Regions from separate parts of the Homo sapiens genome. Here region 2 is linked to region 1. Evidence: fine-mapped expression QTL. A gene starts in region 1. The other region holds a variant in brackets. All regions are shown on one strand. Distances are from middle to middle.

The links.
Region 2: its variant is fine-mapped to the expression of FBLN1 in prefrontal cortex (ROSMAP, PIP 0.93).

The regions. Positions count from the first base shown.
Region 1 is chr22:45,498,789-45,508,626 of GRCh38, reverse strand. It overlaps FBLN1 (fibulin 1), which reads right to left and starts at 5,744. Exons shown (of 17, transcript NM_006486.3): 1 at 5,563-5,744. The coding sequence starts at 5,641. LOC105373066 (a long non-coding RNA gene) reads left to right here and starts at 7,640. Exons shown (of 3, transcript XR_938305.2): 1 at 7,640-7,831; 2 at 9,798-9,838. RefSeq lists enhancers at 2,063-2,674, 2,675-3,288, 3,289-3,902, 3,903-4,516, 4,517-5,130 and 1 more.
Region 2 is chr22:45,520,614-45,530,451 of GRCh38, reverse strand. It overlaps FBLN1 (fibulin 1), which reads right to left. Exons shown (of 17, transcript NM_006486.3): 3 at 4,774-4,909; 4 at 2,443-2,605. Among named protein-coding and RNA genes, the nearest start is that of FBLN1, 23 kb to the right of the region's middle. RefSeq lists enhancers at 1,363-1,913, 5,654-6,205. The variant T/CTCTT (reference allele first, on the strand shown) is at 5,325.

The DNA of each region.
Region 1 (9,838 bases):
AAGGAAACAGGCATCCCCCCCTGAACTAGACTTAAAGATTCAAGTCTTCTAAAGGTGCGTGAGGCTGGCTGGGCGCGGTGGCTCACGCCTGTAATTCCAGCACTTTGGGAGGCCAAGGTGAGCAGATCACGAGGTCAGGAGTTAGAGACCACTCTGGCCAACATAGTGAAACCCCGTCTCTACTAAGAATACAAAAAATTAGCCAGGCGTGGTGGCGGGCACCTGTAATCCCAGCTACTTGGGAGGCTGAGGCAGGAGGATTGCTTGAACCTGGGAGGCAGAGGTTGCAGTGAGCCAAGATCACACCCCAGACAGTGCAAGACTCCGTCTCAAAAAAAAAGATACGCGAGGCTGTCCAGTGTGCTGGTGAGGGGTATGACGTCAGGGCCAAGCTGCCCAAGCTCAAGTCCTGCTGCTGTCACTTAGCAGCTATGCACCCACAGTCTTGCTACCTGGACTCTCTGGGCCTCCATGTCCCCTCATTGATGAGGGGGACAATGACAGCACCTCCTTTGCAGGGCTAGGGTGAGGGTATAGCTAGGTAACACAGGTGAACTGGGGCAGGGGTGGGGCAGGAAGGTGCTCGAGTCCCCGTGCTGTGGGGAGACCATGCTGGGTGCACAGGTGTTGGATTTCCATCCTCAACCTATCACACGCATCAGTGACTCTCAGAAATGGCACTGTGCAGGTCCATAGAGGAGTTCTAGGCCAAAACAAGAAGCCGGGCTTCATACCTAGGTAGCAAAACTCACAGGACCTTTTCACTCCAGTGGGTAACAGGATCCAAAATGAAAAACAGGGCCAGGCGCAGTGGCTCACGCCTGTAATCCCAACACTTTGGGAGGCCGAGACAGGTGGATCACTTGAGGTCAGGAGTTCAAGACCAGTCTGGCCAACATGGTGAAACTACATCTCTACTAAAAATACAAAAATTAGCCAGGTGTGGTGGCGCATGCCTGTAGTCGCAGCTACTCAGGAGACTGAGGCAGGAGAATGGTTTGAATACAGGAGGTGGAGGTTACAGTGAGCCGAGATCACACTACTGCCCTCCAGCCTGGCCGGCAGAGTGAGACCCCGTCTCAAAAATAATAATAAAAAATAAAAATAGGTTCAAAACAACACTGGATCACCTATTTCGTAGGGCTGCTGAGATGACGACATTGGTTACTAAATGTAAAGCATTTCACCTATAATAATTACCCAGAGGACACTCACATCTTATAGTGAAGGAAACAGAGGCAGAGAGTTTGTGGGTGTCATCAAGATCTCTCCAGACACTTTCAGAATTGGGACCAACACACAGCTTCCTAACCCCCTTCTCATGTTGGCTCCGCACAGTGTAGTAACCCGCAAATAACCTGTAGGAAGCTATGGCGACTGGTGCCTCGCTCCCTCCCACCCCAGCCTCTAGTTAGGACCACTGTGGGGTTAAAGGAGGTGGGGCCCAGCCCAGCTCTAGGCCCAGCCCCAGCCCCGCTCCTCGCTGGGTGACTTGTGGCAGATGACTTAGCCAGTCCTGAGCTCCCCTCCAGCCTGAGGGGGTCTCCTATCCCAGGGAAGTTGACACAGTGGTTCCCCCCTCCCACCCTGTTTACTTATAGGGCCACATGTGAGATCATCACAAGGAAACTGGAACCATATGGGGCCTACGAAAGGATTCATTCATCAAATTGTTATGATTTGCTATTCTGCAAAAGGAAAATCTTGTTGTATAAAATATGCTGGCAAAATAACTACATGCCCTCTTAGAACTGTTCTAATAAACTTCACCTGGAAGGCGGCCCTGACCAGGTGCCCAGTGCTCAGAGCCCGGGCTTAAAGTCTCACCAGGTCAGGGAAGCTGCTGGAGAAGTCTCTAGACAGCACAGTCTCCCCCAGTGGTGAGGAGGGGGTGGAACTGGAAGGAACTGGAAGTGGGTAGAAGGAGGGGGTTTCCCTGGAAGTCTCGTGTTTTCTCTTCCTTCCAGGTATTTGGCCCTGCCATTTCCCCTGCCAGGAACACCCTTTCCCCCATCCTCCCAGCCCTACCCACAGACTTAGCCACTGCCTTTTCCTCCTTAGGTTCCCAGTTTGCATGCCGCTTCCTCCGGGAAGTCTTCCCTGACTCTGCCAGTAGGGCTCAGTTCATTTTTCTGGATCTCCTAGTTGCATGAGGGGGAAAAACTGGGTCTCTCTCCTTTCCTGCCACATCCACAAGTTATAGAGCAGTGTCTGGCACTGAGCTGTCCCTTAGTGAATGAATGACTGAATGGCTAAGAACACCACCTTTCCTGACACGGGTTTGGCACTGACGACTACCAGTCCTATAGCCCCATGGGGCCTTCTGCTCAGCGCCTGGCTGGGAAATTCAGTAGTAGTAGAATGTGCAGAGGCATCTTGGGGAAAACAATTCTGGGGTATTGGCAGAATTGCGCTCTTCCCGCGCTCCCCTCACATCAAGCCTCATCTCCTCCAAGGAGCCGCCAGGGAGCCCCCAAGGGCTGCGAAGGCTCCTGGTGCCAACACTTCCTAGAGAAGGGGACAACAGGAATAATAGCTAACATTAATAACAGGGCTGCCAGCCGGCACGGTGGCTCACACCTGTAATTCCAGCACTTTGGGAGGCCGAGGTAGGTGGATCACCTGAGGTCAGGAGTTCGAGACTAGCCTGGCCAAGATGGTGAAACCCCATCTCTACTAAAAGTACAAAAATTAGCTGGGCGTGATGGGCGCCTGCAATCCCAGCTGCTGGGGAGGCTGAAGCAGGAGAATCGCTTCAACTCGGGAGGCGGAGGTTGCAGTGAGTCGAGATCATGCCATTGCACTCCAGCCTGGGCGACAAGAGCGAAACTCCGTCTCAAAAATAAAATAAAATAATAATAATAATAATATAGCTGCCATGGTAGACACTATCCTATGTTCTCTCTCTTAATCCTCAAGACAACCTAAGTAGGTTTTTGTTCCCTTCATTTTATAAATGAGAAAACCACCAAACCATCTCATGGCTTTTTCTGATGCAAACTGATTTCTAGTCTCACAAGGCCCGTGGAGCCCTCCAGGACCTGAAGATGAGTCAGCCGCGTGCCCCTACTCCTGCCCTACACACCTAACAGGGGTGGCAAATGCAGCCCTGAGTTGGGGGGCACTCAGCAGGGCCAGGAGCGGGGCGTGAGCCAGAGCTGTGGGTGCTGCAGGAGAGGCCCCAGCCCTGACCCCCATGGCACAGAGTCTCATCTTCATGCATTCAGTGCCCTGGCCCCCACCTCCTGACTGGGAAACTTCCAGGAGTGGCGGCACAGACCACACGTTTTCAAGCCAAGTCCTCCCTGGCCTTTGTTCTCCCTCCCAACTTTCTTTTAATCAGTCGGAAACGCTGCCCGGCTGCAGCCAGAGGCCAAGAAAGCCTTGGAGAAAACACAATCGTCTTTTCCTAACACCTCCTCCTCTCCACTCCCTCCCACCCAGCTCTCAGTAAAGCCCAACGGGACGGACAGACACAGGACAGACAGGCGGCTCCTCTCGGCCGTTTGGCAAGAAAGATCAGCGCCCTTCTCCATTTAAGCGGCCGTCGCCAAAGGAGTTTCTGCAGATCAGCTAACAGGCTCACCATCTGCGGCCCCACAGCTCTCTGAGAGCAGGGGCGGTGCCACTTGTGGCCTTACATACAGGGCTTCGGGGGCCTCACAGCTGCAGATAGGGGCCAGGCAGTCTTCAAAAGCCCCTTCCCAAACTGTACCAAATTAAACCTGTTGAAACTCAAAGAGACTTCTCCCCAAAAGAAACAAAAGGCCCACAGGACATCCAGCTGCTTTTATCGAAGTGTGCAATTAGGAGGCTTTTTTAAACCCTTCCAATTACAAACTTCTCTGTGGCTCAGCAGTGAGCCACACTGGGCCCGCAAGTCCTGGGGTGTTCATTCAGTCACACACACATAGGGAGAAATTGTTCGCAAACCGCAGACAGAAAAGAACAGTGAGAGGGAACGCAGAGACTCCGGGGCCAGGGAGAGTTTTACCACGCCTTCTCTCAGGCCCTCAGCTTCCTCATCGACACAATCGGGGCCTCTGAGGCTCCTTCCTTTTCTAACAGGAGTCTCGGATGTCCCACCCACCCATCACCCAGGGCCCCTCGGGGTTTTCCCTCCAGCTGGCAGCCACCCGGCCTGCTGCTTGCTGGAATGCCCTCTTCCCGCGCTCCCCTTACATCAAGCTCCATCTCTTCTAAAGAGCCTCCAGGGAGCCCCCAGGGGCTGCGAAGGCTCCTGGTGCCAACACTGAGCTCTGCGCCTCCCCACACCATCTCCAACCCCACGAGGTGCCCAGGCCGTGCCCAGCACCGCCTGAACAATCAGAGCTCCACAGGGCTCTGCTGCAGCCAGCCAGTCAAGAAAGCTCTGTAGAGCTCAGCTCCCAGCCTCCCCTCCCCCTCCAGCCCCCTTCAGCCCCCTTCCTGGAATCCCCCAGTGAGCATTAGTTGGGACAAGCGACCTTTTGACTAACAAAGGCGGTCACCAGAGGTTAAAAGGAACTCAACTAAACCAGGGATTAAGACTCGGATTCTGAGGGTGGTCTAGGGCACTCCCCTGGACCTGGGCCACTGGAGAAACAAAGACGCCAGGAGTGCCGGGCCTGGCTAGTGGCTCTGAGAAGCCACGGGTCAGCAGAGAGGTCACAGGTCATAGCTCTGCCGCCCAGCAGCTGCTCTGATCAGAGGACCTCGTGGCAGTCCCCCCAGGGACCAGGCCTTGAGGGTTAGAGGGGAGAAAAGCGCGGGCTGGGTGGGCACTGTCCCGGAGCTGTCAGTCCCAGAGTTGGGGCCTAAGGTCTGGGCCATCGATCAGATCTGCTCTTGGAAAACTCCATCCCCCTTGCCGTTGGTGGAAGTGACCAGTCCCCAGTCCCCGCTGAGCACCGAGCCCGGCAGAACCACTGCCTTGGGCCCTCTGTCCCGGGAGGGAGGCAGGGAGGAGGTGGCCAGGTCCGCATCCCCTCCATCCTCCCAGCTACGCCCCAAAAACCTCCAGGCTGCTCCCTGGCTTTCTCATTTCTTCCTCTCCAGCCCCTATCCCAGGACCGCTAGTGTCTCCTGGGGAAAAGACTGCTTCCCACCCTCCAGGCTCAAGTTTCACATCCGCAAGCTGGGTACAACAGCTCCTACCTGGGGGTGGAGGCGGGAAGCGGTGAGGAAAGATAGCCGAGGGCGCTTCCAGCGTCAAGTGCAAGGCGCCCTGGGCTCGGTAACCCCCAGCCAGCGTCCCCCAGCCCAGCTAGCGCCCCTGAACCCCCAGGGCCCGGGATGCGGCCCCCGGAGCCGGCTGGATTTGCTAGGACTGGGGTAGGACGGTGTGTTTGAGGGGTGGGGGAATCCGGTTTTGAAACAAGTCCCCAGGCCGGGGAGGAGATGAGGACCGGAGCTGGCCGTGGGGGAGGGGGGCGTCGCCGAGGCCTCGGCGCTGACAGTCCGGGGGCGCCGCGCAGGGCAACGCACGGACTCCGAGTCCCCGTGGTTCCGAAACTCGCAGGGAGCGCGAGGCCGAGGGGGTCGGGACCCTAAGCTGGGGCGGCGGACCCGGGACGCCCCTACCTCCGGCCGCCAGCAGCGCAAGGCCGCCGAGCAGCAGCAGCGGAAGCGGGACCCGGCGCGACGGCGCGGCGCGCTCCATGGGCGGCGGGCGACGGGCGGTGGGCGGCGGCGGACAAAGGCGCGGGCGCGGTCCTGGGGCAGCGGCGCGGGCTCCACGCTCCGGCCGAGCCTCGGCAGCCAACGCTGGGCCAGGGCCGCGCCGTTCAATTATCCCGCCCGGGAGGAGGGCGCGGCGGAGGCGGGGCCGCGGGTCTCCTGGTCCTCCCTCCCCGGCGCCCCCTGCCGGGACCCTCCCTCCCCGGACCCCGGCTGCGAGGGGCGCGCGCCCACGGCTGGGGGCGAGGGCCTGGATCCCAGACTTCCCCGGAGGGGGCACAGAGGGGGCGCCTTCGGGCCGGATGCCCCCAGTCCTATCCCCCAACACTCCGTGAAACCCGATCCCCTCCTCCCCCCACCCCCTCTCGAGGGGAGGGCTCGGGATCAAAGGTTATCCCCGCCCGACTCCGCGCGGAGGAGCGGGGACCCGGGCCTGCAGTCGGAGGCCCGGCTGCTGGGGGGCACTGGGGCAGGCCTTACCGCCAACCCCGCACCCTCGGCCGGGAGGCTGCAGGTCGGTGGCTAACCCCAGGCGTGTCCCGGGATGGGACCCGACTCTGCCCTCAGAGACAGGGACAGTCGGGCCAGGCCAACAAACAACCAAAATCCCAACGTGTGCTGGGCTCACCCGGGACACCAGGGCCGGAGGGAGAGACCCGGGAAGTCACCGAGGCTGCAGGGGAGGCAGCTTTGGCGCTGGGCCTGCGGGAGCCTCTTGTATAGGAATTCATAGCTACCGGGGTTACTGAGGATGAGTTAGGCTTTGGAACCACAAGTAGATTTATTTTCCAAAGAAGAAGAATAAAATGGTGCAGGTGAAGATGCGGAGGAACTGGATGAGACGCATAGGAACGCCACTGGGCAGCTCAAAGCGGTGTTCCTGTGAGTTCACCATGGACCCCTTGAGCCACCGACGCCCCGCCCAGCCTTACACTCAGCAGAAACGCATACAACATGTGCTCCAAAAGACAGAAAGACATGTAGCCGCACATTCATAATTCCTCCAATTGGGAAGCCTAGCGTCATCAAGGCAGATGAATATCGTGGAGTATTCGGGCTTAGGAGCACGACAAACGGAACAGGAGTGAATGATCCGCAACTCACATAACGGGTAAATCTCACAGACGTAAGTCAGAGTAATAGAGTCAGCCACAAAGGAACACTCGCTGCATGATTCCATTTACATAAAAGGCAAGAACAGGCCGGTGGCGGTGGCTCACACCTGTAATCCCAGCACTTTGGGAGGATGAAGTGGGCGGATTGCCTGAGGTCAGGAGTTCGAAACCAGCCTGGCCAACATGGTGAAACCCTGTCTCTACTAAAAATAAAAATAAAAATAAATTAGCCAGGCATGGTGGTGCACACCTGTAGTCCCAGCTACTCGGGAGGCTGAGGCAGGAGAATCGCCTGAACCCGGGAGACGGAGGTTGCAGTGAGCCGAGATCTCACCACTGCACTCCAGCCTGGGCGGCGGAGTGAGACTCCGTCTCAAAAAAAAAAAAAAAAAAAAAAAAAGGCAAGAACAGTTCAGAGGTCAGGAGAGTGGTGATCCTGGAGTGGGAGCGTGCTGGGCTTTCGGGGGCTGGTTAGGTTCAGCTTTCTTACTCTGGGTATTGGTTACAAGGTTGGGCTCAGTTTGTGAGAATTTATTGAGCTGTTCATTTATGGTACGTGCCCTTTTCTGAATACATGTTGTTTCTTTCTGTTTTTTTGAGATGGTGTTTTGCTTTTGTTGCCCAGGCTGGAGTGCAGTGGCGCAATCTCAGCCCACTGCAACCTCCACCTCCCGGGTTCAAGCGATTCTCCTGCCTCAGCCTCCTGAGTAGCTGGGACTACAGGCATGCACCACCACGCCTGGCAAATTTTGTATTTTTAGTAGAGACGGGGTTTCTCCGTGTTGGTCAGGCTGGTCTTGAACTCCCGACATCAGGTGATCCACCCGCCTTGTCCTCCCAAAGTGCTGAGATTACAGGCGTGAGTCACCGTGCCCGGTCACATGTTAAATTTTAAAATGAAAAACAAAAGGACAAGAACTCATCTCCCCACAGGGTGTCTTATAAGTTTGAAGTTTGCAGAGAGCCCAGGAAAGCTTACCAAGGGGACCAGCATGCTCACGCCTCTGAGGTTAAGGAGGCCCCTCAGGAAGAGGTGACATGCGACTGGCCAGTGAAAGGTGAGCAGAGGTGGGAAGGGTTTCCTTGGTGGTGCCAGCTTTCCTGATGTCTCTGCAAAAGTTTGGAGGCACCAGAGATCCTGGTCCGTTTTGACTTTGGATGGGGTGGGGTGCGGAAACAGCACATCAGCAGATGGCCCGAGGGAGGCATTTCTGAGTTGGAACAGGTTGGGAACTCATTACTACTTTGGTATTAACTTAATTCGTTTAAGCCATCGGAGAATGGGGTGCCCTGGAAGGAGTCTAGATGACTAAGGGAAGGTGGTGGAGGGCGAAGGGGGAACCAGGGGACCTGGGGGATTCAGAAAGAAGACGTAGAAACAGGCAGAGGGGTAGAAGGAAACCAGGAGAAGGCAATATCCAAGAAGGAATCAAAAAGTGATTCTGGGCAGGGCGTGGTGGCTCATGCCTGTAATCCCAACACTATGGGAGGCCGAGGTGGGTGGATCACTTGAGGTCAGGGGTTCGAGACCAACCTGGCCAATATGATGAAACCCCATCTCCACTAAAAATACAAAAATTAGCTGGGCATCGTGGTGCATGCCTGTAGTCCCAGCTACTTGGGAGACTGAGGCAGGAGAGTTGCTTGAACCCTGAAGGCGGAGGTTGCAGTGAGCCAAGATTGTACCACTGCACTCCAGCCTGGGTGATAGCAAAAAAAAAGTGATTCTGGCTGGGACTGCCCAGTGTGGCCCAGTGCTCAGTGAAGCCAGGACTGAGAAGTCCCAATGGGGATGGAGCAGGTGGCCGCTGGCGATGTGACCGGGGCCCTTTCTGGGGATGGGGAGGGAGTGGCTGTGTTGTGGGTGGCTGAGAAGGGGGTGGGGATGAGGAAACAGGGACAGTAGGAGGAGGTGACTCCTACATTCAGCTAGGCACTGACACTGCCCTAGGCAGGCAGAGGGACTGCTGGGAGGAGGAGGGCTGAGCCAAGCCTGCAACAGCTGGGGAGGGAGGCCAGAGCCAGGAGAGAGGACATGGAAACCTGGCCTCTCCCAGCCTTTCCTGAAGCTTCAAGAGCTTACTCCTGTTCTGAGGCACAGCCCCCACCATTTTTTTTTTTTTTTTTTTTTTTTGAGGCAAGTCTCACACTGTCACCCAGGCTGGAGTGCAATGCCACGATCTTGGCTCACTGCAACCTCTGTCTGCCGGGTTCACGCAATTGTCCTGCCTCAGGCTCGGGGGTAGCTGGGATTACAGGCACACACCATCAAACCCAGCTAATTTTTTGTATTTTTAGTAGAGACGGGGTTTCACTGTGTTGGTCAAACTGGTCTCGAACTCCTGACCTTGTGATCCGCCTGCCTCAGCCTCCCAAAGTGCTAGGATTACAGGCGTGAGCCGTGGCGCCCAGCCAAGGCGCCCCCTTTTTAGGCACTCACTCTAGTCCTCATCCCAGGCCTGTCCTCCATGGCCTCTCCACATCCTCTTGTCCCTGTGGCTGGTGACTTGGAAAGCCAGGCACTGGGTGTCAGGGAAGTAGGCACCACCATGGACCCCTATCCCCCAGGACAAGCTAGAGGTCCTGACAGCCTGGGACAGGGTCTGAGGCCAGACCACCTGGGTTCCAATCCAAGCTCGCTACTCTCTGGCTCTGTGGCATTGAGCATTTGACTTCTTGGTACCTTGTTTCCTCATCTGTCACGTGGGGCAAGGATTAGGACTTTGCACTTTGCACGGTCGTGAGAATTGAAGGAGATGCTGACTCTCATCACATAAGCCCCACAGAGAAAACTCTGTAATGTAATCACTGTCAGCTGCTGTGCTGGTGGTGACAGTGATGTGCCTTCAGGACCACACAGGGGAGCACCAGTCCTGACCCCCTCCTCATTCACTGTCTGGCTCTGGGCAAGTCCCTTTCTGGGCCTCAGTTTCCCTATCTGCAAAATGCAGGAGATGGACCAGGATGCTTCTAAGCATGCTTCAGACCCCAAAACCCAGGCTGACTCTCGGCCCCCTTCTCTAGTTCTCAGCACATCCAGCTTCCAGAGGCCCACTGGAAGATCA
Region 2 (9,838 bases), 22 kb before region 1:
AGCAGTGGGAGGAAGGTGCGGCTGTGAAGACAGGAAGCCCTCCCAGAGGAGGGAGCATGCGAGGATAGTCTGGGGCAAGGACTGAAGCAGATAAAAGACGGAGAGATAAAACATCTAACATCTGGAGCTGCAGAAAAGCCCAGAGACTGCTCACGCTGCAGACATAAATCAGTGAAAATCCACCCCCGAGATGCAGGAGAAATCCTCCACCAGCAGGAATGGTTTGGGTTTGTTTAAAGTGAAAATGTCGTCTCTGATTTCAAAAGCCAAGGAATGAGGCAGAATGCGGCCCCAATCCCTCTTGATGACTGTAACATCTGAAATCATCTCAGTGGCATCCATGGGGCCCTGGACTTGAAAAACTAAGAACAATAAGTGAAAGATGAGTCCCGGGTGACCCGGGTCCTCTGTGACCAGGGGCCCTACAGCCTGGACTTGAAAACCTAAGAACAAGAAGTGAAAGGTTCCGTGTCACCCAGGACCCTACAGCCATTACCTTGACTTAGAGACTACAGGTCTGAGGGTTCTTCCCTTTCGCCCCTTCCGGCACCTCCCCACCTCTTTATTTATTTTATTATTTTTTTTGAGACTGAGTCTCGTTCTGTCACCCAGGCTGGAATGCAATGGCGCCATCTCGGCTCACTGCAACCTCCGCCTCCCAGGTTCAAGCGATTCTCCCTGCCTCAGCCTCCCAAGTAGCTGGGATTACAGGCGCCCGCCACCACGCCCAGCTAATTTTTGTATTTTTAGTAGAGACAGGGTTTCCCCATGTTGGCCAGGCTAGTCTCGAACTCCTGACCTCAGGTGATCCGCCTGCCTCGGCCTCCCAAAGTGCTGGGATTACAGGCGTGAGCCACCGTGCCCAGCTCACACCTCTTTTATTTTTTAAGAGAGTGGGGGCAAAGCTCAGAGAGAGGAGGGAACAGGCCGAAAACTACACAGCAAGCTTGGCCCAGGCGGAGTCCTGCCTTCTTCCAGGTTAATTCTGTTACAGCACAAGAAACCGTGGCCTAAGTGTAAGAGGCTACTGGACAGCCACAAAGTCTCCTGAACCCTGTAACTGAACCACACAGAAATGCAGGGCGAGGACACAGAACGGGGGGGCACACAGCTGAGAGCGCTCTTGAAGCTGCTCTTGGGGTCACATGCCCCTTTGCTGAGTAAGTGTCTATGATTTGACAGAGCATAGCCAGCTATTAGCCAGCGATGGCCCCCAGCTGCTCGCCCATACATCGTCAGCTCCAGATGGAGAGGGCACTGGCCAGGAGGTGGAAGGCCAGGCTCTCCCTCCTCCACGTGTCGGCTGTGCGATCTTCAGCATCAGACCCTCACCCAAGAAGTGGGAGCAAGGCCAGCCACCCATGCTGCCCCGGGCAGCTGAAGGGACAAGGGCAGATGGTGAGGGCAGACATTTATGGGGCCAGGTGCTCTACCCAACCCTTGACACCCAATCTCGCACTCCATCCTCCCAGCACCTGATGAAGTAGGACTGCAACTATCCCCACTTCCCAGATGAGGGGACCAAGGTACACATTAGGACCCGGATGGGAGCACAGATTTGTCCGATCCCAGACTCCAAGCACTCAGCGTCACTCCAGGACAGCGGCTTTCAGATAAGGTCACAAACATGAATGGCTCCGACAACCGGAGTTAGTCCGTGCTGAGTTAAGGCAATGGTGACACGGATGCACGTGTTACCTGTAATGGTTCATCGTAAGTGTCAATTGGGCTGGGGTATGGTACTCAAATATTTAGTCAAACACTAGCCTGGATGTTGCTGTGAAGCTATATTTTAGAGATTAATATTGGCCAGGCACGATGGCTCACACCTGTAATCCTAGCACTTTGGGAAGCTGAGGCAGGTGGATTACCTGAGGTCAGGAGTTCCAGATCAGCCTGGCCAACATGGTGAAACCCCATCCCTACTAAAAATACAAAAATTAGCCAGGTGTGGTAGTGTACACCTGTAATCCCAGCTACTCGGGAGGCTGAGGCACAAGAATCACTTGAACCCGGGAGGCGGAGGTTGCCGTGAGCCAAGATCACACCACTGCACTGCACTCCAGCCTGGGTGACAGAGAGAGATTCTGTCTCAAAAAAAAAAAGAGATTAACATGTAAGTCTGTTGATGCTGAGAAAAGCAGATCATCTTCATACCATGGGTGGGCCTCACTCAATCAGCAGAAGGCCTTCAGAGAAAAAAGACTGGCCTCCCCGGGAAAGGCGGCGTTCTGCCAGCACACTGCCTTTGAACTCCAGCTGCAATGCCCCTCCTTCCCTGGGGCTCCAGCCTGAAGGCCTGCCCTGCAGATTTTGGACTTGCCAGCCCCACGATCACATGAGCCAAGTCCTTAAAATCTCTCTCTCTCCACTCTCGCTCTATATACACATCCCGGAGAACCTTAATACACTGCTCATTAGGGAAGGAAGGGGGAAAGTTACCCGTTTCTTGGAGGCCCCCGACATCCAAATCTCCGGTCTCCTGGCTCTTGACACAGCATGCCTGGAAGACCTGTCCACACTGGTAGCCAACCATGAGGCTGTACTCGCAGCTCTGGCCCTGGGCCTGGGCCGCCCTCCCCAGCAGACAGCAATGGCAGCACCTCTGCAAACACAGGTGGAGATCCCAGATGGAGGAGCGGGCAGACAGCCCAGCGGGGTCCACGAGAGGCCTCAGGGGAGGCCTCTCTGAGCCCCCTGTCCACACAACCTGTAGAGTGATGACTCAAGTCTGGCTTAGATACCACTTCTAAATGTCAGCAACAAATAGCAAAGCAAGGCCATCCCCCTACTCCAAATCATCTAGGTCCCAGTTTTGAAAGGAAGCTTAAAGGGCCTGGCATCCACCTCCCCTCCCCACCCCAACATGCAATTGCACCCCTCAACATCCCTGCCCCGCCCAGAGACCACCCGGCTCTGCTCGCACACATCCAGGAAGAGGGAGCTTCTTATAGCACCATGCACCAGCTCCAAAGTTCTGTTCCTTTTGCATGGTCTGAGATTTCTCTACCATGCCCGGAAAAATGACACACATGCATGCTGCCTCTCCGTTTTTGAGTTAGAGGGGTTCTGGCAGCAGGAATTGCACCGTGCATTTGAAAGCACAGGAACTTCAAGACGAGTCATCAAGCAAGGTCAAAGGACAGGGTGGCTGTCTGCCACCTGGGCCCAGGTCCCAATAGTTACTTCCAAGTCCCTGTGGCCTCACACCTGAGTCCCAGAAGCAACATTTGCCCTGACACACGAAAAGCCCTGCTTCAGTCTTTATTAAGTGGTTATCCTAAGAGGAGCACAGAACTTTCTAAACAGTCCCCAGCAGGAGCCAGGAGGTGTAGCTTTGCCTCAGTTATGTGGCACTGATGGGTCTTCCAGGCTGCTTATTCTACGCCCTCCGCTGCCAGAAAGTGTAGGGAGCATCAGTCACCTCATCCATCTTTTGGGGTGTGAGTAATCCTTCCTGGAAACACAAGTCGCTCATCTGCCAGAGAGATCTGTTCCCACTCCTGCTAGAATGTTCTGTGCTTTTTCCACACCTCTCAAGTCTGGGGACATGGGCACAGCTGTGTGCCGGACCGACGGCATCTGCAAGGCCCAGCCCTGCATTGGGTGTTGGGTGGGAGGGTGCGGGGGCAGTCATGAAACGCCCAAAGTCCTGGTTCCCAGGCACCCCCACCATCACCCCACCCAGCTCTCTCCTGGGCCAGAGCCCTGCCCTGTGAAAGCCCACACAGGCCAAGGTGGGCAGGGGACTCGGGACCCCCAACTCCTCCACACGGAGTCCCTCCACAGCCCAATCTATGTGGAGAATCCCCACAAAGGAGCTCCCACACCCTCTCCTGGAATCCAGACTTCATTCAGATTCTTGTTTCTTAAAATTATTCCATCACCTTCCTAAAAGGAACGGGAAGCTTCTTCCAGGGAATGCATTTTCGTCATCTGGCACCTCCAACAGAAGCCCAGCTTCCAAACCCGAGCTCCTCCAGGCCCAAGTTCCTCCTGGCCGGGCTTGTTTTCCTTGCTGGCTGGGTGGTAAGGGAGGGATGGCCTGGACACCTTGGGTTTACTGCCTGTAGGCAATGCTGTCAGGCACCTTTCCACCTCTTGCAAAGACACAGCCCTTCCACGGCCATAGCGGTCCTGAGTGACCTGCTAGCACGTAGGGTCCTAGGAGCACTCAGGGAAGAGGACTATGCCATTTATTCACAGCTTACCTTCAGGGCAGGATCCCGTCTGGGTCCCTGACAGGACTGCAGAGAGGCCATTTTGGAGGCTGGGCCTCTCTGAACCTCAGTTTCCTCTTTTAGGGTCGTTATAGAGGTCAGATCTTATCAGAGGTCTTAGTGAGGGCCCATTTTTACCTCTGGACCCTGACGAGTCTGTGGGTAGAGAAGCCTGAGAGCCTCCTGGGTAGGGTGAGGGTGCCGACCCTGAATTGAGAAGAAGATTCTGGAAGCCCAGGAGGAGCCCTGCTTTGACTTCTGCATCTGCCCAATGCCTGGAGACAGGCGGTTCTCAGGGCAAGGCCAGCTCACTTCACCCCCCGGCCTCGTGGGAGACTCGGCCCCAGGTGTCCTCCGGGGTTTACGGCTACAGTGGAGGGGGAGAAACAGTGGGGTTTTCCACCTCCCTCCTGGCCCAGGAACCCCCAGCTGCTCACAAAGAAAGGTGGCCTGAGGCAGGGAGCGCTGACAGACAGTGCCGCTTGGCTGGGAGGGCCTGGGTCTGCCGACTAGTGGGGACGGGCAGCGACCCCACATGGTCTTTGGCTCTCACCTTCACAAATGTGGCCTCCAGGCTGGCGTTGTCACCGTGGGGCGTGGCACAGCGGTCCTGCTCGTTGGCCAGGCTGATGCCCGTGGCACAGTGCAGCTCCTCCAGCTGGCTGTGGCAGCACTGCTCCTGCACCATCCTGTGGGTGAGGGGTGGGCTGGGCCAAGGCTCTGTGCGCAGGGGGCCCAGGGCACGAGATCCTCGGGGGTGGGGGTGCTCTCACCTTTGAGCCTCCCCTTCCCTGCTCCCACAGACACAGAGAGAGAAATACACAGTGCCCCAGTGGCATACAGAAGGAGCTCAATTAGCATTTAGTTAGAAAGGCTTGGCCGGGCACAGTGGTTCACACCAGTAATGCCAGCACATTGAGAGGATGAGGTGGGAAGACCAGTTGAGCCCAGGAATTCGAGACCAGTCTGGGCAACATGGTAAGACCCTCTTTCTTTCTTTTCTTTTCTTTTTCTCTCTTTCTTTCTTTCTCTCTTTCTCTCTCTCTCTCTCTTTCTCCCTTTCTCTCTTTCCTTCTCTTCCTCTTTCTTTCTTTCTCTCTGTTT[T/CTCTT]TCTTTCTCTCTCTCTCTCTCTTTCCCTTTCTCTCTTTCTCTCTTTCTTTCTTTCTTTGAGATGGAGTTAGGCTGGAGTGTAGTAGTGTGATCTCAGCTCACTGCAGCCTCTGCGTCTCGGGTTCAAGCGATTCTCCTGCCTCAGCCTCCCCAGTAGCTGGGACTACAGGCATGCGCCACCACACCTGGCTAACTTTTCTATTTTTGTAGAGACGGGGTTTCACTGTGTTGGCCAGGCTGGTCTGGAACTCCTGAGCTCGGGTGATCCCCCCGCCTCAGCCTCCCGAAGTGCTGGGATTACAGGCGTGAGCTACCATGCCTGGCCTCTTTTTTTAAAAAAAGAAAGACAGAATGTAGTATGGTGTCTGGAGTCAGAGCCAGGAGGCCCAGTTTTGTCACCAGAGTGGCCGCGTCACTCCTCTGAGCACTAGGCTTCACCCGCACAATGTTCCTGCTGATTTGAAAACCAAAAAGCGGCGGGGGGCTGACTCTGGGCCCAACCTTCCACCCCTTTATCAGGTCAAGCTCTTCTCAGTGCTCGTTCCATCTTCCAGGCTCAGAGCAAACAGCTTCTGAGAGTCCTGTTGGGTAGCCTGCCCAAGGCCCCAGAGGGAGGGATGGTGGCTGCAGTGGCACCTAGCTGCAAAGCCCACACCTCCCAGCCCTGCCGGGGCTCTGGGGAGAGGTCCTCGACCTGCCAAAATCAGCTCCTCCAACACAACCATGAGGCTGTGACAGCTAGGGGCTGGCGTGGGCGGGCTCCAAAGGCAATGAGCAGGAGAGGAGTGTGTCACGGGTGGCCCCTGACCAGACCCAAAATAACCCCAGCTCCAGCCAAAGCCAGCAAGGGCAGGAAGAGCCACCCAACTCGTGCCTCCAGGAGAGAGGGTGGGGGCCTCCCCAGCTTCCCTGCACTGCCAGCCAGGCCACCTCTGCACAAAAATGGCAGCTGCCAGTGCACCTTCCCCCAACCTTCCCTGGGGGACTGGAGGTCTGAACCCGGCTGCCCGTGTGTCTCAAAACTGCCTTCAGGCTCCAGGATGGAATTACCGAGCTGAGCTAGCACACATTTCACTCATGCTTTCGGTGGATTTGCAAATAACGGCGTTTCACTAAACTGCCAGAGCGAGCCACCAGCCATGCGTGCATCCATTCAAAAACTATTGGCTAGCCAGAAAATCACAAGTGTTGGTGAGGATGTGGAGATGCTGGAACCCGTGTGCATTGCTGGTGGGAATGGAAAAGGGTGCAGCTGCCGTGGAGCACAGTTCCTCCCAAAATTAAAAATAGAATAATCATAGGACCCAGCAATTCCACTTCTGGGTAAATATCCAAAGAACTGAAGCATGGTTTCAAACAGATACTTGCACACCCATGTTCACAGCAGTTTGTTGTTGTTTTTTGTTTTGTTTTGTTTTGTTTTTGAGATGGAGTCTTGCTCTGTCGCCCAGGCTGGAGTGCAATGTTGCGATCAGGGCTCACTGCAACCTCCGCTTCCTGGGTTCAAGTGATTCTCCTGCCTCAGCCTCACCGGCAGCTGGGATTACAGGCACCTGCCACCATGCCCAGCTAATTTTTTATATTTTTAGTAGAGATGAGATCTTGCCATGTTGGCCAGGATGGTCTCAAACGCCTGACCTCAAGTGATCTGCCCGCCTCAGCCTCCCGAAGTGGTGGGATTATAGGCGTGAGCCACTGCGCCCGGCCTCACAGCAATATTATTTACAACATCCAAAAGGTGGAAGCAATCAAGTGTCCCAGGCACCTCAGGGTGTCCAGCTGCCTCAGGCTCACCCCCAACACCCCAGCCTCTATCTCATGGCCCCCTCAGCCACCTGGTTACCCTTGTATCTGGTGCTTCCTCCCTGGGACTGGCCGTTGCTGGCTCCACTCCAGCCACCCTGGCCGCCTTGCTGTACACACCCTCTCCTCTGGGCTCTTGCGCTGGCTGTTCCCTCGGCCTGGGATGCTCTTCCCACTTTCCATACTGCCCACGCCCCATTCAGGTCCTGGCACAGTGAGGCCAACCCCACGGCTCTAAAATTATAAACCCACCATGAGCAGAAGCCCCTATGCCTCCCTGTTTCCCCCACGGCACATCCTGCCTTCCTACAAACCATCAGACGGACTTATTACTTTCTTTGCATTCTGCATCCCCTATAGAATGCCGCCTCCACGAGGCCAGGGGACTTGCATATTTCGTTCACCGATTGATCCCCACTCACCAGAACGGAGCCTGGCACCTAGCAGGCTCTCAGTGAGATTTGCAAAATAAAGAAGGGGTTAGAGAAATGCTGGGCTGGAAAATGTCAGCTTGGGACTTGCTTTAGGTTTCACTGGATGTGTCCAGATTCCTCCAAAAGACGCTGAAGGACATGTGGGTTTAATCTAATCCAAAGTTTTAGGTGGATTTAGATCTGGATCCCAAGGAATGTCGGGCCTTGGTGGAGACCTAGAGTCAAGATGATTCATGATGGGAAAACATCAAAGCTGCCATCTTCTGACCACCCCAAACACGTCCTTGTTGAAGCTGCAGGCTGCTTAACCCCTGCTTGGCTACAGCCCATGGTTGCGGAGAGGTCGGCCTCTCCCTGCAGTCCTCTCTGAGCCTCTCACCCACTCAGGGAGCTGATACCCCCTCCTTTGGGCCCTATGGACCCTCAGGGCCTCACACCCTCGACTGCTGCCAGGAGGGCTGGCCTGGGCTTGCCTGCCTGCTCATGGCTTTCATCCTGCCTCTTCCTGAGCATCAAGAACCAATAAAGATTTGTTGAATGAACAAAAACTGATTTTACTTCAGCTGGTGAGCCTCACAGAAAGCCACTTCAAAAGAAGAGAATTTGGCTGGGTGCAGTGGCTCATGCCTGTAATCTCAGCATGTTGGGAGGCTGAGGCGTCCAATCACTTGAAGCCAGGAGTTCGAGACCAGCCTGGCCAACATGGTGAAACTCCCGTCTCTACTAAAAATACCAAAATTAGCCACGCATGGTGACAGGCACCTGTACTCCTAGCTACTCAGGAGGCTGAGGCAGGAGAATCGCTTGAACCCAGGAAGCGGAGGTTGCAGCAAGCTGAGATTGCGCCATTGCACTCCAGCCTGGGCGACAGGGCCAGACTCCATCTCAAAAAGAAAAAAAAAAAGAGCTGGCTAACACAACAGACAAACCAGGTGGTCAGTGATCCCTGTTTTTTGCATCTTTTAAATATCACTATTAAGAGGATTCTTGTAAATAAGATTTGATTTCTGATCTGCCCTATCCCTTCCCTGCCTTCATTAAAAATGAAAATCTATACAAAACTCATTAGAAAATCCCTTCATTAGCATCACTGCACTGCTGGCCACACCCCGCATCCACAGCCCTTGCCTCAACCAGACAGGAGCTCTGACCTCCCCAGGTTGGGGAGGCTGGGGCGGGGTCCTGCTCACCCGAGGACCCCCACAGCCACATCAGTGACTGCCTCCTGAACCCTTATGTGGGCTCCGTCTCACTGTGACCTGGAGCCCAGGCTTGGCCTCTGATTGGCACAGGCTGCGTGGGGTTTGGACCCCAGTGAGAACAGGGTAAAGGGGAAGCACACAGGAAGGGCTGGAGGGCAGCGGACAGCACCTGGGGCCACAGGGCAGTGACGCAGGCAGAGCTGGGCAGCTCAGTAGCTCACTTGAGAGGCAGCCTAGGACAGGTATGTGGCCCCTGGCCTGTGTGTCCACTGGGATGAGTCAATGGGCCTCCTGGGGCCTAAGTGACACAATGGGCCAGTCACTTGCATCTGGTGACCCTGGAGTGGTGTCCTGGGCATTGAGCCACGTGTTTCAGGGACACTGTCATATGGAAACTCACGATACCCAGGAGTCTGGACTTGCACCCGCACTTAAAGAGAGAAGGAATGCCCTCTCAGCCATTCTGATGGTATTTCTTACATTCCAGGAAATCTAATGTATGTCTGAAATTTCTAAGAAGGCAATGTGTTTGTCCTCTGGGACTCAATGGAGATTAAAGATAACCCCAAAATTGGCCGGGCGCAGTGGCTCATGCCCATAATCCCAGCACTTTAGGAGGCCAAGGCAGGAGGATCACCTGAGGTCAGGAGTTCGAGACCAGCCTGGCCAACACGGTGAAACTCTGTCTCTACTAAAAATACAAAAATTAGCCTGGTGTGGTAGTGTGTGCCTGTAATCTCAGGTACTCGAGAGGCTGAGGCAGGAGAATCGCCTGAATCTAGGAGGCGGAGGTTGCAGTGAGCCAAGATCAACATACTGCACCCCAGCCTGGGCAACAGAGCAAGACTCAGTTTCAAAAAATAAAGAAAAAAGATAACTCCAAAATTTACCAAAGACATTAGTGAGTAGAAGTCAGTAATACATTTGATAGTGACTAAAATCCCCATTCACAAGCAAGGCCCAGAGTGCTGCTGAATCTGCGGCCTCAGTTCCTCTGCCTGCACGTTGAGGGGTTACACGGGCTGATGCCTCACTTTCTTTTATTTCACTAAGTATTAATAGTAGTGGCTCCCTA